2 separate regions of the Homo sapiens genome follow, and region 1 is linked to region 2. A link means that fine-mapping ties the variant in region 2 to the expression of a gene that starts in the linked region. Tissue or cell type: whole blood. Region 2 holds a variant in brackets; the other region holds the start of a gene. All regions are shown on one strand. Distances are from middle to middle.

The links. PIP is the estimated chance that this variant, and not a neighbour inherited with it, causes the effect. A credible set is the group of variants that fine-mapping cannot tell apart.
Region 1: ZDHHC13 starts here. The variant in region 2 is the best candidate, but not a certain one, in a credible set for the expression of ZDHHC13 in whole blood (INTERVAL, PIP 0.87).

The regions. Positions count from the first base shown.
Region 1 is chr11:19,112,253-19,122,399 of GRCh38, forward strand. ZDHHC13 (zDHHC palmitoyltransferase 13) reads left to right here and starts at 4,916. Exons shown (of 17, transcript NM_019028.3): 1 at 4,916-5,024. The coding sequence starts at 4,998. RefSeq lists silencers at 4,646-4,885, 4,936-5,015, 5,106-5,335.
Region 2 is chr11:19,078,726-19,088,872 of GRCh38, forward strand. No RefSeq gene overlaps it. Among named protein-coding and RNA genes, the nearest start is that of MRGPRX2, 23 kb to the left of the region's middle. The variant T/C (reference allele first, on the strand shown) is at 5,060.

The DNA.
Region 1 (10,147 bases), 34 kb after region 2:
GAGATTGAGCAAGACTCGTAGGTAATCCCTGTCCATCTCCCAATCCCTAGCCTGGAGCATCTGTGAGTTGGGTTACAGTTAGAAAGCTGAGGCTGCCCAAGCGCTGGCAAGAGAGCCATACAGGGTCAGAAGAGTTGTCCTAACCCTATATTCACTGCTACTTTGGAAAGTGCATTGTTCAAGTCATTTTCCCTCCCTGAGCCTCAGTTTCTCCATGGGTGAATGAAGTTGGGAAAGTCCTTTTGAGCTGGTGTTATGACTTTCTGAAGAGGACTCTCTACCCCACCTATCGCCCCAGGCTAAAGTGGGTTCCTGTATTATATTCTTGGCACTTTTCCTGTTTAGCATTTGCCATTGTCTCTATTTCTTTTTATCTATTTATTTATCTCTATCAGTATTTGCCTCCCTTGGACTGAATTCCAGAAGAGCAGAGGCTGTGGTGTCCACCACTTTACTCATATGTTTAGCCTGGACCTGGTGTATGTTCAGAGCTCAACAAACGTTCACTACCTAAAGTACAGCAAGCACTCACCCCCCCCAGCCCCTCTGGCTTGGTACCACAGAGCATCAGGATTTCCTACCTGGTGTTTGTGAGAAGCCCTCTGCTGACAGATGTGTGGGGTTTTTGGACATTCCAAAGGGTCATTTTGTTGCAGCCATCAGAATGATTACAACCATAAGTCCCTGGTTCAAAAACCATCCCTGTCCTTTCCACAGGTATGGAAGAAGCGAGGCCAGAATCAAAAGTTTAGTCAGAACAAAGTCAGCTGATGCTCATATTGTGACAAGGAGGATTAGCAAACCTTAATATGGGACTTTTTAAATCCAATAGTGGTTAAACTTTGTGAAATCAGCACATCTTAGAGTGATTTATGGAATTGAGCTGCCTTTAATGTCGTCTTATAAACCATTTTTTTTTCAACTGGGCTCATTTGTTTCTTCATTTATTTAAAAAACACGTCTTTTTAGCCTTTAGCATGTGCCAGACCTTGTGCAAAACATAATGCAGACAAATGGATGTCAACCGGCAGCCAAGTGGAGGCTGAGTGGAGGAAAGAGGTGGCCAAGTGGAGGAAAGAGGATCTACTTAAGAACTACAAGGCTGACTATAAAAAGTAAATATTTGTGACCCCATTTGATTAAAGTCTGTCTCTTACTGCTAGACAGTAGAGTAAGTCCCAGGAAGCCACAAAACAGTTTTCTCTGTCTTTCTCAATACCGAATCCCCAATGCTGAACAGTGCCTGGTCCATAGAAGGAACTCAATATATGTTTGTAGAATGAGAGAAATAGTGTCACCTAAAAGAGACTTAAAAGTGCTGGGGGGACTGGAAAGGTAAAGCTTAGTCTCAGCTGGGAAATGACATGATCAGAGCTGAGAGAACTGTAGAGTTACTGCTTCCAGCCTCTGTTCTCATCCCTATTTTACAAACAAATGAACTGTCATTAGAGAGCGAAAGTGATTTGCCCAGGGTCACACAGTGTAATGAGCTGAATTTTGTCCCCCTTAAATTCATATGTTGAAGTTGTAACCCCCAGTACCTCAGAATGTAACTTTATTTGGAAATAGAGTCTTTAAAGAGGTAATAGTGTTAAAATGGGTCATCAGGGTGGGCTCTTATCCAATATAACTGGTATCTTTATAAAAAGAGGAAGTTAAGATATGGCTACACAAAGAAGGAGGCTATGTGAAGACACAGGGAGAAGATGGCCATCTACAAGCCAAGGAGAGAGGCCTCAGAAAAAACCAACCCTGTCAACACCTTCATCTCAGGCTTTTAGTCTCCAGAACTGTGGAACAAATTTCTTTTGTTTAGGCCACTCAGTCTGTGGTACTTTCTTATGGCGGTGCTACCAAACTAATACACACAGAAAGTGATGGCAAATCTTGAATTAGAAGTTGAGCCTGCTGAATCTCTATCGTTGGCCCTTGGCATGACAGTACCCATCTGGTACAGTCAATTGCCCTCCCCAACACCCACTCCCAAGGATGACAATGGCAATGATGAGAATAGTTAACATATACATTGTGCCTAGTATGTACCAGACCTTCCTCTAAGTACTTTACATACATTAGCTCACTTAATTCTCTTGACAGCACTGTGAAGTAAGTACTGTACTGTTATTATCTCATTTTTACAGATGAGGAAACCGAAGCACAAGTGACTTCGTAACTTGCCCAAGGGCATGCAGATACTAAGTGCTGGAGCTGGGCTCCAGGAGCCTGCTTCTTCTACCATCATACTATTCTAGTGGGCTATGTCTACCAGCAAAGGTATTTTCTTTTTTTTTTTTTTATTATACTTTAAGTTCTAGGGTACATGTGCACAACGTGCAGGTTTGTTACATATGTATACATGTGCCATGTTGGTGCTGCACCCATTAACTCATCATTTACATTAGGTATATCTCCTAATGCTATCCCTCCCCCAGCCCCCCACCCCACAACAGGCCCCAGTGTATGATGTCCCCCTTCCTGTGTCCAAGTGTTCTCATTGTTCAATTCCCACCTATGAGTGAGAACATGCGATGTTTGGTTTTTTGTCCTTGCGATAGTTTGCTGAGAATGATGGTTTCCAGCTTCATCCATGTCCTTACAAAGGACATGAACTCATATTTTTTATGGCTGCATAGTATTCCATGGTGTATATGTGCCACATTTTCTTAATCCAGTCTATCCCAGCAAAGGTATTTTCAAAGTTGAGAGGTATTGGGGGCAGTTAGAGGCTATCACTGCGTTTGGTTTCATATAGCCATTAGACATGGATATGCTTAATCTGAAATAGCTCACTGGAAGCATAAAACATGAGCAGAGGGAAACCAGGAGCCTGACTAAGGAGTGGGGTGTTCGGATTTAGTTGCTCCAAAATCTTCCAATGTGTTAGGATATTAGTGCAGACGCATTGAAACAGATTTTAAGCCTCCCTCAAGTTCAGCATCTTCTAAATCAGACTTTGAAAATGAAAGAAACAAACTACTTCAGCCAAAATGCTTGCAGTAAGAAACCTGGGTTTGAATACTCTCTTTACTACTTACTTGCTGAGTGACTTGGGGTTTATGGAATCAGCCTGAACCTCAGTTTCTCCTCCCAGGAGATGAGGAAAATACCACCCATCTCGTGGATGAGACATAATGTATGAAAACACTAGCACAGTGCCAACACATAGTAAGTGATGAATAAATAAACCTTTTTTTTTTTTTTTTTTTTTTGAAACAGAGTCTCGCTCTGTCACCCAGGCTGGAGTGTAGTGGCGCGATCTCGGCTCACTGCAAGCTCCGCCTCCCGGGTTCACGCCATTCTCCTGTCTCAGCCTCCCTAGTAGCTGGGACTACAGGCGCCCACAACCACGCCCGGCTATTTTTTTTTTTTTTTTGTATTTTTAGTAGAAACGGGGTTTCACCGTGTTAGCCAGGATGGTCTCGATCTCCTGACCTCGTGATCCACCTGCCTCGGCCTCCCAAAGTGCTGGGATTACAGGTGTGAGCCACCACGCCCGGCCAGAAAGCTCTTATTAGTTAAGCAAAATGACCAAACCCAAACATTCCTTCCTGTATGAATCCTCACCCAATGCCTCATCCTAACTTGTCGGAATTAATTGCTTTTTCCTCTGGCTTTCGGTGGGAGTTGCTTGCACTTCTACTTGTCACTCCATTTGTCCGTGTATTAATGACACGCCTGTACATCCATCCATCCATCATTCATTAAAATTGTGCTGAGCATTTTCCATGTCCCAGTGCTGTGTTAGACACTGGGAGTTCAGAGATGGATCTGACATGGTTCCTATCCTCAAAGGGTTTGGGCTTTTGGGGGCAAGCCAGGGCTGACGTGCCCAAAGGACACAGACACTAAAGCAATAGTAATACATCTACGATTTTATTGTATCATAGCAATATTTTCCATGGAAAACCCAGCACTTTGTTGGATTTCTATTTATTTATTTTATGATTTAGTATTATTTTTATAAAATAAGGAAGTCATAATGTTTTCAGATCGTTTTCAAATTAGCTTCTAAAGGTCTTAATCTGGTTCCACTTGGCAACAGACACATCTAAGGAACCATTACAAAGAACTGTGTTAAGTGCTGGGCTAGAAAAACCCCAGTGTTTACTCGGGGCTGAAGTAGGAGAGCCCCACTGCCCCACTGGAACGCCCCAAGGGAAGGAGCCATCCCTAATGCTTGCTTCATAGACCTTCAAGCTGGACAGGGCTTAAATGCCAGCTCCTCCAGTGCCCTCCACAAAGGGTCGTGGAGGTCAGGGGGGAGGTGCACTTCAAGTGGGAGGCTCTCGCCCACTCCCCCTCTAGCCTGCGCCGTAGAACTCATTTTTTGTTTCATTTGAGGAAACAGAACCTCAGGCGGTAGAGGTGACTTGCCCAAGATCACGCAAATGGAGTGGAAAACATTTAAATAGCTAACATCTATTGATTCCTTTTTATATGTAACGCACGGGCTGAGGGGCTTTACATGCGTTTTCTCATTTAATCCTCCTGATAATTCCATGAAGTAGGTACCCTTATTTTCCTCATTTCACAGATGAGAAAATTGAGGTAAAATAAGAGACTTTCACAAGGTCATTTAGCAATTAAGTAGCCAAGTCCAGATTTGCTCTCAATAGATGGTGGTTGACGTTGGAATAACAGTCTGATCCTGACCCTGGACGCACATCTGGGGCCCGTGGCACCTGGGGCAGGGAGGGGCGCTCGGTCCTGGGCTGGGGCTGGGGGAGCGACCGGCACGGGCGGGCCGGGGGTGGAGCCTCTGGCGAGCTGTTCACAGCGGGCTTCCCAGGAGGTGAGAAAGTCCCGCCCCTAGCCGATGGAGGGCTGGGATTGGTTCTCCGGGACCGATTGACGGCTCAGGGCACGAGCGGGGACCGCAGCGGCGGAGGTGAGGGCGCCAGCAGGAAGTGGGAGAAGAGGCGACCCAAGGCGGGCTGGCGGGCTGGCGGCAGTCGCTACTTGCCTAGTAGCCTCAGCCGCTGTGGGCTCCTGGGGAGATGGAGGGGCCGGGGCTGGGCTCGCAGGTGAGTGCGGCCGGGCGGTGGCTGTCCTGGGGGCCGGGAGAGCGGCTGCAGCTGTGGAGGAAAGGATGGTGTGGGTGAGAGGCCGCTCGATGAGGGGGTTTCGGGAGCGGCGGGGCCTAGGTCTGGGAAGCGGGAGCCTGGAAACACCACGAACGATGCTGGAAATTGTCTCTGAGGCGACTGGGAAGAAAAGGCGAGGACTGAGGGGTGAGGGCCCGAGCCGGCCCCTCCAGCCTCCATCCCTGGCCAGGGCGCCCCCTGGGGCCGGTACCCGGAGCCCGGCGGGGACCTCTGTGGGCCTGGGGAGGGGACGATGGCCCTTCCCGGGAGAGGTGTCAGGTGACACACCTGATTCGGACCCGCCCGTCTTGACGTTGGCCCGGAGTCGGAGCGGTTCTGTTGATTTCTTTTTCAGCCCTGGCGTCTTAGCACCCGCCTTCACCCCACCCAGTCCAGTTTTCGCTCCTGTTTCCGCATCCTTGCTTACTCCTTGAAATAATTAAGGCTGCTTGTTTAGGATGGAGGAAAGGGGCGTGGAGAGGGGAGGTACACCACAGCGATCTGCAGAATCTCAAAGGACAATATTCCGTGGAGGAGGTGTTATATAAAAGCCAGACGGAGGTCCAAAGAAGCCAGGCGGGCCAGTCGGAGAAGTTACAGGAGGTAGATGTTGTCTCCAAGAAAACAAGATTTTTGTGCTTTTTGCTTATGGCCCTTTCCTAGTGCCTAGAGTACTGACTAGTATATTGTAGACGTTCACTTAATATTTATTGAATAAATGCAGAATTTCCAGGTTCAGCCAGTTTTAGTGAGTGCATAACCCATGTCAGATGCTTTCATATGCATTATTTTATTCCAGAATTGAAGCATCCTTAAGAAGATATTATCCCCATATACAGATGAGAACGAACACTAAAGCTGTCTTCAGCTGGAATCAGTTAGGCGGTAGATTCTCAGTTTGGGATGATTGGATTACCTGATCTCTAAAAACGTTTTTCCAGTCCCGAGAGTGTTCCTCATGCTTTCCCTTTCCCTTCTTTCAGCACGATCTTGTGTAGGTTTAAGTGAGGGACAAGATGTCTGGGGAAATGTCAAGGTGTTCTTATTGGTTATTCTTGAATTTTAACAGAAAAAAAATAGTTCTCAGGCAGACTGGATTTTACCAAAGGGTGTTGAATCTTCACATGGAAACAGCGCCTCATTCTTTTTCTCAGAGAGGCTCAAAGAAAAGTTGGTAGGAGTAACTATTATGTCTTAATTACTGCCACTCATTTACAGAAGGCTTCAAGTGCTTAAAGTTCACTCTCTCATGCTGAAGGGAAGATTAGCCTTGTCCCAGTTCCATGGCCTATAGAGAGGGAGAGAATGATTTGGTGGTTGAATTTAGTAGGGAAAGGTAGAGAGATCATTGTCGTTGTTAATAATAATTGCTCTTGTTCACTTTTTCAGTAATGTGAAGACCTCACCTATATATACTGCTTTGCAGTTTGCAAAATACTTCCCCATTTTTGATCCTCACTATAATCCTCTGAGGTGGGGAGAAATGATTATTCTGATTTTAGAAATGAGAACAGAGGCTCAGAAAACTGGAATCACTTGCTACAAGTCAAATAGCTGCTAAGTGATAGAGCCAAGACTTCAGTCGTTCATTCAGCAAATGTGTTTTGAATGTCTGCCAGGCACCGTTTTAGGTGCTGTGATAAATTAGTGAACAAAACAGACAAAAACATTACTGCTCTCATTGAATTTGGTTCTTTTGATTCCAAGATCGGTGCTGTTGGATTTTTGCCAGGATTTGCCTATACAATCAGGTCTGCAGTTTCCTTTCTGACCTCATCTTTTTTTTCTTTTTTCAGACAGAGTCTTGCTCTGTTGCCAGGCTGGAGTGCAGTGGCGCGATCTCGGCTCACTGCAATCTCCGCCTCCCGGGTTCATATGATTCCCCTGCCTCAGCCTGCCGAGTAGCTGGAACTATAGGTGCGGACCACCACACCCTGCTAATTTTTTGTATAGTAAGATGGGGTTTCACCATGTTGGCCAGGATGGTCTCGATCTCCTGACCTTGTGATCCGCCCGCCTCGGCCTCCCAAAATGCTGGCATTACAGGCGTGAGCCACCGCTCCCAGCCTGACCTCATCTTTTACTGTCTTGCTTGCCCGGTCATCCCCAGCCACACCAGCCTCAGAGTCTTTCATACTTACTTCTGGAATGCTCTTTCCTTGTGTGCCCACTTGGCTTATTCCCCCACCTCTTTAAAGTCTTGACACAAATGTCACCTCTGTGTGGCATTCTGTGACCCCCGTATTTAAAATTGCAAGCCTTTTCCATCATCAGCACTACCAGCAACACTCCCTGGCCTCCTTCCTTGCTTTAGATTTCTCCTCAGCATTTAACACCATTTAACGTACTTATTGGTCTTGTTTATTGTTTCTTTCTCCTCCACTGAATGTTAGTACTATAGGGACAGTGATTTTTGTCTGTTATGTTCACTGCTGTGTGCCTGGCATCTGGAACAATGCCTAGCACTGGTGAGTACTCTGTAAATACTTGTCAATGAATGAACTTGGAAACTAAACTCTGGTACTTCTGTTAATGAGAACTTTAATGACATGAGAACTTTTAATGAGTGTCACATATTTCTCTCTCACTCGCTCCTTCTCTCTCACTCTCTTTTTATTCGATAATCTGGCAGGATAATGCCTGTCATTGGAGTTTAAGTGTGGTTTTCTAAATCTTGATTTTGGCTTAAATTAATGCCCACTGTAACTTTAACAATTCTTATATACAATTTAGAAAAATAATCTCATTCATGACATCTCTGTGTGAGAAGTATTACATGATCCCTCAGAGCTTAAAGATGCCCTAGTTATTTATTGTGTAAGAAACCACCTCAAAACATAGTGGTATAAAACATGGCTTTGTCATGCTCATGGACTCTGTGTGTCAGGGACTTGGAGAGACTGCAGCAGGGTTGGTTTGTTTCTGTTCCACCATGTCTAGAGCCTCAGCTGCAAAGACTCATAAGCTGGAGATGAATTGAGAGCTGGGGCCAGTATCTATGAGTGTCTTCACTTACATCTGGCAGTTAACTTTCAGTAGAGACACCTACACGTGACCTGGGCCTCTGCACAGTATAGTGGCTGAGTTCCATTAGTGACCATCTAATGAAAGAGCCAGGAAGAAGAAGCTGCCAGTTTCTAGGGCCTGAGCCTGCAAACTGGCACAGCATCACTTCTGAAATATATTATTTGTGAGGTAGTCACAAAGCTCAGAGTCAAGAGGAAGGGACATAGACCTTTACCTCTTGATGGAGAAGTAGCAAATAATTTTGAGGCTATGTTGTAAAAATTACCACACATGTATTCATATGTCTGTTAGATAATTTTCATAATATCTTGTTCTGCTTTTCACTCTTCTGTGGAGGACAGTGAGCTAGCTACATATTTCTTTCTTGGTATCTCTCTTTTTTCCCTCTTTAAATTTTTTTTCCCTTTGTATCTTAATTAAAACAAAAACAACAAAAAAACCATTTTATTCTAGTATCTTGAGGTGGTTGTAGACTGGAATCCTAGGAAGACGAGAGGAAGTAAAATGGAATAGAATCATAGAATACTTGGAGCTGGAAGGCTTTTCAGTGAATTACCTAGTTGAGAGATTCTTAAACTGGCATATAGGATAAGCTTCAGGGCGTTAGTGAACATCTTGAAATTAGTGAACATCTTGAAAAGTTAGTTTACATGTGCAGTTGTGCATTTCTCTTAAGTAGAGAGGCCTTAATTTTGGTAACATTTTCAAAAAGGTCCATGACATTTGGAAGGTTTGAGAACCATTTATCTAGTCTAGCCCTTTAACTTTTCCCATGAATTCAAGACGCAAAAATAATAACTTACTTTCCAAAGGTTCATGGCAAGTTAGCAGAGCCCAGGTGTCAGGGCTCCTGATGCAGTGCATTTTCATTGCTAGTCAGGTGGTCCAGTCATGATACGATCTTGTTTGATTGTTTGCTGCCACTTGGAGTCCACCCATTCTTTAGGTCAAGGTCTGAGGAGTAGTCTGTATTTTACTCTGCTCTGAAAATGGGGAAGGGAGTATATCCCTAACTAGAATATAAGTTCCTTGAAAACCAAGGACCTTGTCTGTTGTTCATTGCCATGTTGCTGTGTCTACAATAGTGCCCAGCACGTAGTAGGCATTCAGTAAATGTCTAGAATGAATGTATTATGGAAGGAACTGTGTCTTATTCATCTTTTATCCCTGATTACCTACTTCTGTGATTTGTATAGGTGTTCTTTATATTTCCCTGAATGAATAATTGATGAAAACTCTTGGGAGTTGGCTGGCATCATGAGAATTTGCTTAGTCTGTTCTGTTACCTTAACATTGTAGGCAGCCATGTAGCAGTTAAGCTTCTTTATCCATGTAGTGTGTTTGTTCATACAGTAAATTCTTTACCAGTTCACAAGTCAATAGTGACTATTGTAATAGCTCACCTTAGGACCATGCAACATGAGACTTAGAAGGAGCTTTATGGGTGTATTGATATGTCCCTTTCACTTTACCAACGTAGAAATGAGCCAAAAATAGAGTAGATGATTCACCACTATCATACAGTCAATGTGGCAGTACCAGGAATTTGGTTATTTGGCCCGTGTCATCAGTGCAATCAGGAGAGATTAGGCTGAGAGAATACTGTGGAAGCAGGGACTCAATGTGTCTTCTTCCCTATCTTTTGAGACTCAAGGTTACCTGTCTTCTTCTCTGTTGTGTCCTTGCCCTCCTTTTCCTGACCTTGCTTCACAGAAAACTTCACAGAAAATAAAAATTTCAGCTCTCTTCTGTTTGAACATGGGGATAGGAGCTGGCGGCCAATTTCATATTGTCGTGGGTCATGTTATTGTAGGATTTGACATGTATTTCTAAATTATATTCATTAACTAATAGCTCAGTATATGTTCATGGCAAGATTTGAATTAAAGATGGTGGTTATAAATCTGCCTCAATTTAGCCTCTTGACAATTTTGAATTTTTTCCAAGGGGGTACTGACTTGTCAGATTGGATTAGATCATCTTTGTTTATACTTCATGTGTCTGATAAAGAGTTCCTGATCTGCTATTTTCTTATT
Region 2 (10,147 bases):
CAAGGTCCACTTAAATTCAATTGATCATCTTGAGGGTTTTAAGACCATGTGTAAATTAGTGTCATTTCAGAATCCCTAGTTATGCAATGGTCAGCCAGTAGCACTGAAACCTCAGGGCACTATTTTCTCCCCCAACTACTGTAAATCAAGGTGGACACAGACACTTTTCCTTGCTGCTTAGTTATACTGTGCAGGTTTTATGTTTTGTTTGTTTTATTTTTCATCAATCATCCTTTTTCTCAGAGAGTATAGCTGTTTCTGAGTCCTGGCTTTATTCAGAGGGCTCTCTAATTTGACTCCCTGCACTGCATGGATATAAGGATTAGTGCAGAATCACCCCTTCATTCCTAGTAAAGTCCTGTGTGTAACAGGTCTAGGCCACCAGACGGTACAGAATTCCCCGGAGTGTGTGATAGTTTCTTCCCATGTATTCACTTGGGTCTGACTTTACTTCTGGCCTTAGGTTCCTCTTCCTTTATATGTTAGATCCTCACAGCAATCCCCAAAGGTATTTGTTTTAAAGATAAGTACACTAAGGATCAGAGATGTTAAGCAAATTTCCCAAAGTCACAAAGCTAATGAGTTGTTAAGCTGAGATTTGAATTCAAGCCTTCTGATGCCTCAAGATATATATTTTCAGCTACATCCATCTCTTTAACTTGTAGGACTTAGTCTTGGGAAGGGTTGTCTCAGGGTTGACGCAGGTGGTGGAGAGGGCTATACATGGCCCTGTGGCTCCAGAGGATGGACCCTTGAGCAGTGGGTGAGAATTACACAGAGATAAATGGAGGCTGGAGATCTGGAGCAGCTTCCAGCAAGTGTCTGACAATGAGAGGGAGTGAGTTCCCCATCGCTAGGGGTGTGAGATGACCATCTCTTCAAAAAACCCCTGCCTGGGGTGGCTGCAGAGAGCAACCTCTGAGTGTCCTTTGGCTCTGATAGCCTTAGCCACTGTCATTCTCTTGGTCAGCCCTGGACATCCCTGGAAAGGATGACTCAGCTGTCCGTTTTAAACAGGGTAGTTCAGAAGAATACATTCCTGGTTATTCAAGTTTCTAGGGAGTCCTTGGGAAAGGCTCGGTTGATGAGGAAATCGTTGGGGGGTGATTAACAACTCTTGGATCAGCTCCTTCCTCCTTTGCCAGCCTCACCCAGCAGCCTTTCACAGGGGCCTGTTTTCTTCTAAACACACAGAATGAAAGAATGTGACACATCAGGTTTTAATCTTGGGTCTCAGCCCAGAAAAAAATTTGAAACCTGAAACAAGTGAAACCCATTAATTTACAATTAAATTTCAAAGGGTTGTTCCCCCAAAGTGCCTACTTCCAACCAAATAATTTGAGCTCAGAGCCATAAATTATGTGATGTGTTTTGTCCCCAGCCTGCGAAGTGTGCTGGATTAGTAGCCCAGCCTGGGGCTTCCAGCTATCTCCTCCTTCAGACTGAAAGTCTTCTAAACTATGAATGGTACAAGTAATGATTCTCATTTGTACAGAAGTTGCAATTGACAGAGCACTTCCATGTTACTCACATTTGAGCCTCCAAAGACTCCATGTGGGATAAGGCATTACATAGATGAGGAACACAAGTCTTGGGGAGATGGAAACGTTGAGGGACTTGAGCAAGACACACGGTTTCTAAGGAGCAGATCCAGGACCTGAATCCAGATTTCTTGATTATCTTTTCAGAGAAGATAATTTAACTACTTTCATCAGTGCAGCCTCCTCAGAATAATTAAATCTTATGCAGGAGAAGAATTTAATTTTTATAACTGGAAACAAAAATGCTTCAATAGATCCTCTTAGGCTACAACCATTCCCAATCTCCCTCCATTACTCCTCCCCTGTATCCCAGCAGAAAACCCTTTTAGGGCTCCACTGTGGTTATAACAATGTGCATTCCTCTTCTCACAAGTGACGACAGTGTCACGTGGTGGCTGAGCGCACAGGGCCAAGTCCTGCCTCCTCTTCAGCTGTGGCCTTGGACAAGTTAGCTAACCAACCTGAAGCTCAACTTCATACTGCTGACCTTGAGGGGATGTGGTGATGACTAAATGACATAAAGTACTGGAGAGCTTAGCACAGTCTGCAGCATGTAAGTGCCCCATAAATGCAGATTGAACATAGCTGTACAAAACAAGGACTGTAGGTCAAACCCCAGGACTGCAAAGACTCCATTCATTCCAGCAGCTTTGACTGAACACGTGCTTTGTGCCAGACGCTTCCGTGTCATTACTCATTGACTCCTCACAACAATCCTATGAGGCAGGTGTTATTATTCCCATTATACACATGGGGAAATTGAGGCTTACTTGCCAGCTACTTTGCTTTCATCTGTGTCAGAGCTGGGATTTGAATTCAACTCTGTGTGACTTTTGTTCCAGTACTCTACTGTGCAGTATGCAGAGATTTGGAGAGAGTACATTATAGATTAGGAGTGGTGACAGGAACCCCTAAATTGGGGTGTCTAGGGACTGGACCTGAGCTGTGGCTCTCCCACACTTGCTCTGCAGCTTTAAGCCAGACACATCAGTTTTCTGGGTCTTGGTGGCTTCATCTGTAATCCAAAGAGTTTGGAAAGATCATCTCAAAGATCCTTTCCAGCTCTGGCCTGCTAAGAAGCTCCTCAGATTTCAGAAAAGACTCACGGATATGATGCTGGAACAGAGGAAGCATACCAGTGGCCCCTGAAATTTCAAATCAGTTTTGCCTTTTGAACTCTGAGTTTCTGCATGAATTCAGAATCTGCCAGAGGAAAACTCTCTAATTATCCTACAGGGATTAGCCCAGCTAGTAATTACCCATATTATTTTTAATTGCATTTTATAAGGTACCTTTCATCCAAGATCTCAAAGGGCTTCTCAAATATTCATTAGCTGAACCCCACCTCCTCCCTGTGTGGATATGAAAGACAGAGACTGATTTTAATGTCAGAAAGAAGATGTGGCAGGGAGAGAAAAAGGGACTGAGATCCTGGGAGTAATATTACCTCTGAGTTTAAAGGAGAGAAGAGCAGAAATATGCCAGAGAAATGCTCACCTTTGGAAGGAGTTCATGGGATATTTGGTCAAGAGCAGATGGGTCAGGAAATGTTCCTCCTTTTTAAAAAATCAACTTCTGCCAGGGATGGTGGCTCACACCTGTAATCTCAGCACTTTGGGAGGCTGAGGCAGGAGGAATACTTGAGCCCAAGAGTTCATGCAATCAACTTGAACTCCTGTTTTGTTTTGTTTTGTAGAGATGGGGTCTCACTATGTCCTAGGCAACATAGTGAGACCCCATCTCTACAAAACAAAACAAAAACAAAAACAAAAACAAGAAATTAGCCAGATGTGGTGGCATGTGCCTATAGTCCCAGTTATTTGAGAGGCTGAGGTGGAAGGATCACTTGAGTCCAGGAGTTGGAGGCTGCTGTGAGCCGTGATGGTGCCACTGCACTCCAGCCTGGGCAACAGAGTAAGACCCTGACAAAAACAAAACAAAACAAAAAACCAAAAAGAAACAAACAAAAAAAACCTTCTGTCTGTAAGTGCTTAAGAGAGGGTCATTCGGTTTATTGCAGTTCAATTCCATTGAATCATTGGCTTTATTTCACTTTAGACTTATTCATCATCAGCTGTCCTTTGAGGAGTCAGCAGCATTCAGACATGTGCTACATAATGTGAAGGATGTAAGTGAAGCAAGATTGCAGATTTGGGCACGTTGGTTTAAGCAGCAAAGGCCACAGGAACCTCCCAGAAGAGCCCTAATAGGCTTCCTTAAATGAATGGCTGAAGCCAAGGCCAAGATGTTCAGCATGTGGCCAATGGTTGCCACAATACTTCCCTGGCAGTAGGTAGAGAAAAAGTAAATCTGGGCACATATGCTAAGTCCAGGAACCCGACTGACAAATGACATCAAAAGATCATTTTGAGTAGCTCATTATGGGGCCACTCCTCTCCTTCACTCCCAACTCCCCTCCACCAAGGAGCTAGGGTACTCTTACTAAGTTCCCATCATTCTTGTTCCAATGAGTGGATAGAGGATGTCACTGTGGAGTCTGAGAAGCTTCACTCGGGTTGGATGAGGAGCCAGCAGTCTTCTCAGCTGGTCTGTGAGTTCCTGAAAGACAGGACTCTGCCTACCTACTCACCATTCTTTCCCCAGCACACTAGCTGGGTGCAGAAGGGTGGATGTTCAGAACATATTTGCTGGCTAAAGGAAGGGATCACGAAGCTACCACCCTATTTCTGGCCTTGCAACGTGGTCTGAAACAGCCAGAGGAGGATCCTTTCCTTCGTCAGCTTGGAGATGTCTAGATCCAGAGGACAGCCAGGGCCACACAGCTCCATTGACTTCAGAAGCCAAAGATGGAAGCCATTGCTAAACTAAGTCCCAATGACCCAGTGACTGAGGGCCCCAGGTGAGGTGGTGTGGAAGGCAAGGCAGGTGCTGTGAGGTAGCAAAGAGGAAGACTGTCCTGGATACTGGGTCCTTTAGCAGGAAGGTTGGGACCAGTGGGGTAGGACTTTCAACTATTTCACTGTTGGGGGCACTTAGGGCCCTAGTTCCCTTGTTGGTGCTCTTGGGATAAAATGGCCTAGAGGGATGTGGGTGACAGAAAGATGCGTCATGGTCTTGCCCCTGAAAAGCCAGTGGTTTTATTTTGGAGATTAGACTCACACAGAGAGCAGTTAGAGCACAATGCAAGAAGGATACTTGTCTCTGACTAAACTGGGAGATCCCTGTGTGGAGAGAGAGGTCTTATTCATTGCAGTATTTCTTGTTGGGCCTGACAAAGGCCTGGGCACTTTTTCTGCTCCAAATACACCTAATGGTTAGTTGTCAGGTTGCATGGCCTGAAAAGTTAAGTGGCATAAGTCAGAAAAGGGAGGAACCTGGAGGCCAAATGCTGGCGAAGGCTTGGAGAAGGAGGAAGAGCCACAGATGGGTGCTGAATAAGGGACAAGTGAAAAGCATAAGCCCCACTTTGTCAAAGAGCTTTCACATCACAAGAAATCTATGCAGTGAGGACAGCCATGGGAGGGGGCTGAGAGGTTCCAAGTGGCAAAGGAACTGCC[T/C]TGTAGTCACCCAGCAAGAGGACTTCCAAGATTTTTGCCTGCCCAGCATCCATTTCTTTCTCTTCTGGGAATGCCACCCTGTCTTCACTCTGAGTCCATGCATTTCACTGTACAAGACATCATCTCTGGACTTTGTGGGTGGGTCCAGGGCAGACCTGACCAGTTGGAGAACTGTACCCTCTTTGCCACAGGATTTGTTCAGGGATGAGCAAATGACTCAAGCTGGGCCAATGAGAACCCTCTCAAGAACTTTTTCTAGAACTCTTGGGGGAAAGACACTCGTTTGGAGGTTGCAAAGCTGGAATAATGTAAGGCTGGAGGTGCTGATGGTAAATCTGGCCACTGGATGGGGAAAGACTAGGTAAGGATGATGTTAACATGAAAGAAACCAGAGCTGCAAGACAAAGACTCATGATAATTTTTCAGATATATTAATCAATACATTTCTTTTTTATTTCCCTGTTCGCCACTTTAAGTTTCTGTCACTTGTAACTGAAAAAATCTTTGCTCATATGCTTAGCTGATAAATGATGTTGCAGACCAGATCCTGGGTCTCCTACTTCTTTGTCAAGCTCCCTCCTGATGATTTTACCCATTCATCATCCATCCATCCATCCATCCATCCATCTTTCATCCACTCATCCCTCCATCCATCCATCTTTCATCCACTCATCCCTCCATCCTAGTCATCCATCCATTTACTAAATTATCCTCCCACTTATCCATCCTTCCATTTATTCATTCATCATCCATGCATCCAACTCATATACATTTAATGTATATAGAAGTTGCTCAATGCACATTTTTGAATGAATTAATGAATAATTTGTCATGATTTATTTAATGGCAAAGGTACATCTACCTGCCTTTTAATCCTATGTGGAAATTGGTCGACAAAGGGTAAACCAAGTTATAAACTCAGAACTTGGAACTCCATCAGGAAATCAGTCTCCCAAGGCAATACTGAATTTCATCAATGTCATCAGCATACAGCCAGACATGAGCCTTTCTTTGCCAAACATGATTTGGTCATGCTGATGCTGCAGCCCAAACGGGAGGGTCTGGAATGTCACTGACAAACATGTGGGTTTTCCTCTTGGAGGCGATGCTCATACCGTGAGCTGTCTAGTGACATGAGTAAGAATTGCCAAGAAGGACTTACTACCTATTTTGCTCTTTGTACCTCAGTGGCCACTTTAGGCACAGAGCTGCCCAAGAACCACAGAGATGAGTGCCAACTCTTTCAGGATGACTCTGTAACACTTCAGTCAGAGCATGTAGAAATAAAGCAGTCACCTATTTCAAACTCCTGTGTTTCCAAGGAAAACTGCAACTCCCAGAGAAAAAGGGATATGACCAAGGGCACATAAAGAATTACAAGGAGAGACTAGATCTGAACTCCTGACTTCCAGCCTGGTGCTTTTCCTACTACACCACTCTCCATCCTTGGACCACATTCCCAAACAGGTGGAGTACATCTCAAAGGGCTCGTTTCCTCTTTGGAAATGTGGAAATGTGGTCCAGGGTAAGCTGCAGGCACTAGACTATATTTCCTTTTTTTTTTTTTTTTTTTTTTTTGAGGTGGAGTCTTGCTCTGTCGCCCCAGGCTGGAGTGCAGTGGCGCGACCTCAGCTCACTGCAAGCTCCGCCTCCCGGGTTCACGCCATTCTCCTGCCTCAGCCTCACAAGTAGCTGGGACTACAGGCGCCCGCCACCACGCCCGGCTAATTTTTTTTGTATTTTTAGTAGAGACGGGGTTTCACCGTGTTAGCTAGGATGGTCTTGATCTCCTGACCTCGTGATCCACCCGTCTTGGCCTCCCAAAGTGCTGGGATTACAGGCGTGAGCCGCCACCAGACTATATTTCAAAGATGTTCTTCACATTGCTGTCATCTGCTTGTGAACCACATGCCACAGTAAGGATGCATGAACATCACGGTCACAGGATTTGTAAGATGGGACCTCAAGAGCCACACTTCCCAACTTCTTTCTGCTGTTTGGATGTCCTCTACAGCACCCAGTGGTCTGCTTGTCAGATTTATAGGTGGCAGAGACAAGGGGGGAAAGAACTGTGCTCTTGGTCCCCTTTCTCTCCTGACTCCTCCAGGACATAAATCCATCAGTTGCCTCCTCTCTCCCTCTTAAACTTTCTGCCTTTTCCTCCTTCAATCTTTCCTCTTGGTTAACAAATATTTTGGGTCTCCTTCTCTTCTTTTTCACTTTATTTTATTTATTTAAATTTTCAATTCAGAGGTACACGTGCAGGTTTGTTACATATATACATTGCATGATGCTGAGGTTTGGGCCTCTAATGATCTCATTGCCCAAGTAGCAAACATAATACCTGATAGGTAGTTTTTCAATCCTTATTTCTCTTTCTCCCTTCCCCCTTTTGGTATCCCCAGTGTCTACTGTTTCCATATTTGTGCCTGTGTGTACCCAATGTTTAGCTCCCACTTATAAATGAGAACATGCATTATTTGGTTTTCTGTTTCTGTGATAATTCACTTAGGATAATGACCTCCAGCTGCATCCATGTTGCTGCAAAAGACATGATGTTATTCTTTTTTATGGGCTGTATAGTATTTCAGGTGTGTATGTACCAAATTTTCTTTATCCAATTCACCATTGATGGGCACCTGGGTTGATTCCATGTCTTTGCTATTGTGAAGAGTACTGTGATAAACATACAGGTCTCCTCTTAAAGAAAATAAATTGATAAACAATAATTCTTTTGATTTTGCCATGTGCCCAGTTACCTTCTTATCACTCTCATTTTTTCCAACACATTTTTTGAAATAGTCATTTCTGCCTGTTGTCCCTTCCTTATGATCTACCTGTTCCTAAACTTTTGGTATCTTCTTTTCTCTCAGGGGTCACTAATGACCTCCCCAGTGTGAAATCTTTTTGACATTTTTGGGTGTGTGTGTGAGACAAAGTCTCACTGTCGCCCATCTTGTGAGATCTATGTGTGATCTTGGCTCACTGCAACTTCAGCCTCCCATGTTCAAGCAATTCTCCTAACTCAGATTCCCAAGTAGTTAGGATTACAGGCGTGTGCCACCACGCCCAGCTATTTTTTATATTCTCAGTAGAAACAGGCTTTCACCATGTTGTCCTGGCTGGTCTCGAACTCCTGACCTCAAGTGATCCGCCCTCCTCGGCCTCCCAAAATGCTGGGATTACAGGTGTAAGCGACTGCGCGCAGCCCTTTTTGTCTCTTTTTAGCCTTAAATTTTCTTGTTGCCTTTGTATCATTTCAGATGTTGATCACCCAGTACTCAATCTCCCTTGATAGGTGGTTACCCCCATTCGCTTTCTTTGCCTTGGGCTTTGCTTCTGATTACAACTTTGTGTTCGCTTCCTTGGATCATTTGTTTTAAGTCTCTTCCAGAGACCCTGTCCATCCATTGATAGATTTGTCCATTCCATTCTTAATTGAGCATGAGGTACTGTGCCAGGAACTGGAGATTTAGAGTGAATCACACATCATTCTTGACCTCAGTGAGCTTACCTTCTATTGACAGAGACAGCTAAGTTCATCTCAACACCATGTGATGCTATATGCTGGACCAGTTACTTCATAGATTCAAAGAAATGCAGAAATGGGAGCTAAAAGGGACATGAAGATCTCTAATGCAGGTCTCAATTTTACAGAAGAGGAAATTGAGGCACAGAGAGAGGGCATCAGTCGCCTGTGGGCCTACAAAGAATTGGTGAGGAGGTAAGAAAGTTTCTTCAAATAAATTATTCAGAGAATGGCCAATGATTACTTTTCTAGTGAAATAAGACGGTATTGGGATACAAAAAACTATCTGGAGTTTGCTGTGAGTTACAAATACATTTCACTGAGTTCTTTCTGTAACCAAAGACCCACCATTGGACCCGTGTCTTTCTCCAAATACTCCGACAAGAGGTCATGTGGCAGAGATCCCAGAATTGGGCCTTTTTTTATCGAAAGGAAGAGAAACAATACTTACTCAACACGTAATCCGGGCAAGGAAATTAAGGCCCTAAAGTTAGGTGACTCACATCAATTTTAAAGCAAAACCAGGACTGAAACTCAGATTTCCTGTTCCTTGCCTCCTGTTCCTTTCGTGAGGTCAAGAGCCACAAGCTGACTGTGTGAGCTGGAATGCTGGGCTACCATCTGCCCAGGGAAGAGGCTGTGAGCCTACTGAGTTTGGCAGCCCCCTTGAAGAAACTATGTGTGCGTTTGGATAAGAACCTGCGCCAATCTTTACCCCTAGACAGAGCCAGTGTCATGGGCATGCAACCTGTGATGTTGCATGGGACCCCATGCTTAGAAGGACCCTGTGGTTGGCTTAATGTTGCCATCTTAAAATTCTTGGTGATTTGTAAAAAATGAGGTACTGCAAATTATGTAGCCATTTTTGCTCCCAGATTCTAGCTTTTATTATTGCCACTCAAAGCACTTCCCAGGTCTTACATCTGAGTAGTTCAATCCTCTCTGCCCATATCACTGTAGGAAGGGCTATTGGAAAGATCACCTGAAAGTGAGCTAATGCTAGGCCAGCCAGGTGCCTGTCTAGATGCCCTGGACTGCTTCCTGGAAGAGTTTTTGCCTCTCTATGTTACCGGAAAGGGGTCTCAATCCAGACCCCAAGAGAGGGTTCTTGGATCTTGCACAAGAAAAAATTTGAGGTGAATCCATAAAGTGAAAGCAAGTTTATTAAGAAAGTAAAGGAATAGACAATGGCTACTCCATAGGTAGAGTAGTGGCAGAGGCCACTCAGCTGCTTGTACTTATTGTTACTTCTTGATTATATGCTAAACAAGGGGTGGATTATTTATGAGTTTTCCAGGAAAGGGGTGGGCAATTCCCGGAACTGAGGGTTCCCCCCCTTTTTAGACCATAGGGTAACCTCCTGAAATTGCCATGGCATTTGTAAACTGTCATGGCACTGGTGGCAGTGTCTTTTAGCATGCTAATTAGCATATAATGAGCAGTGAGGACAACCAGAGGTCACTTTTATCGCCATCTTTGTTTTGGTGCGTTTTGGCTGGCTTCTTTACTTCATCCTGTTATATCAGCAAGGTCTTTATGAGCTGTATCCCGTGATGACC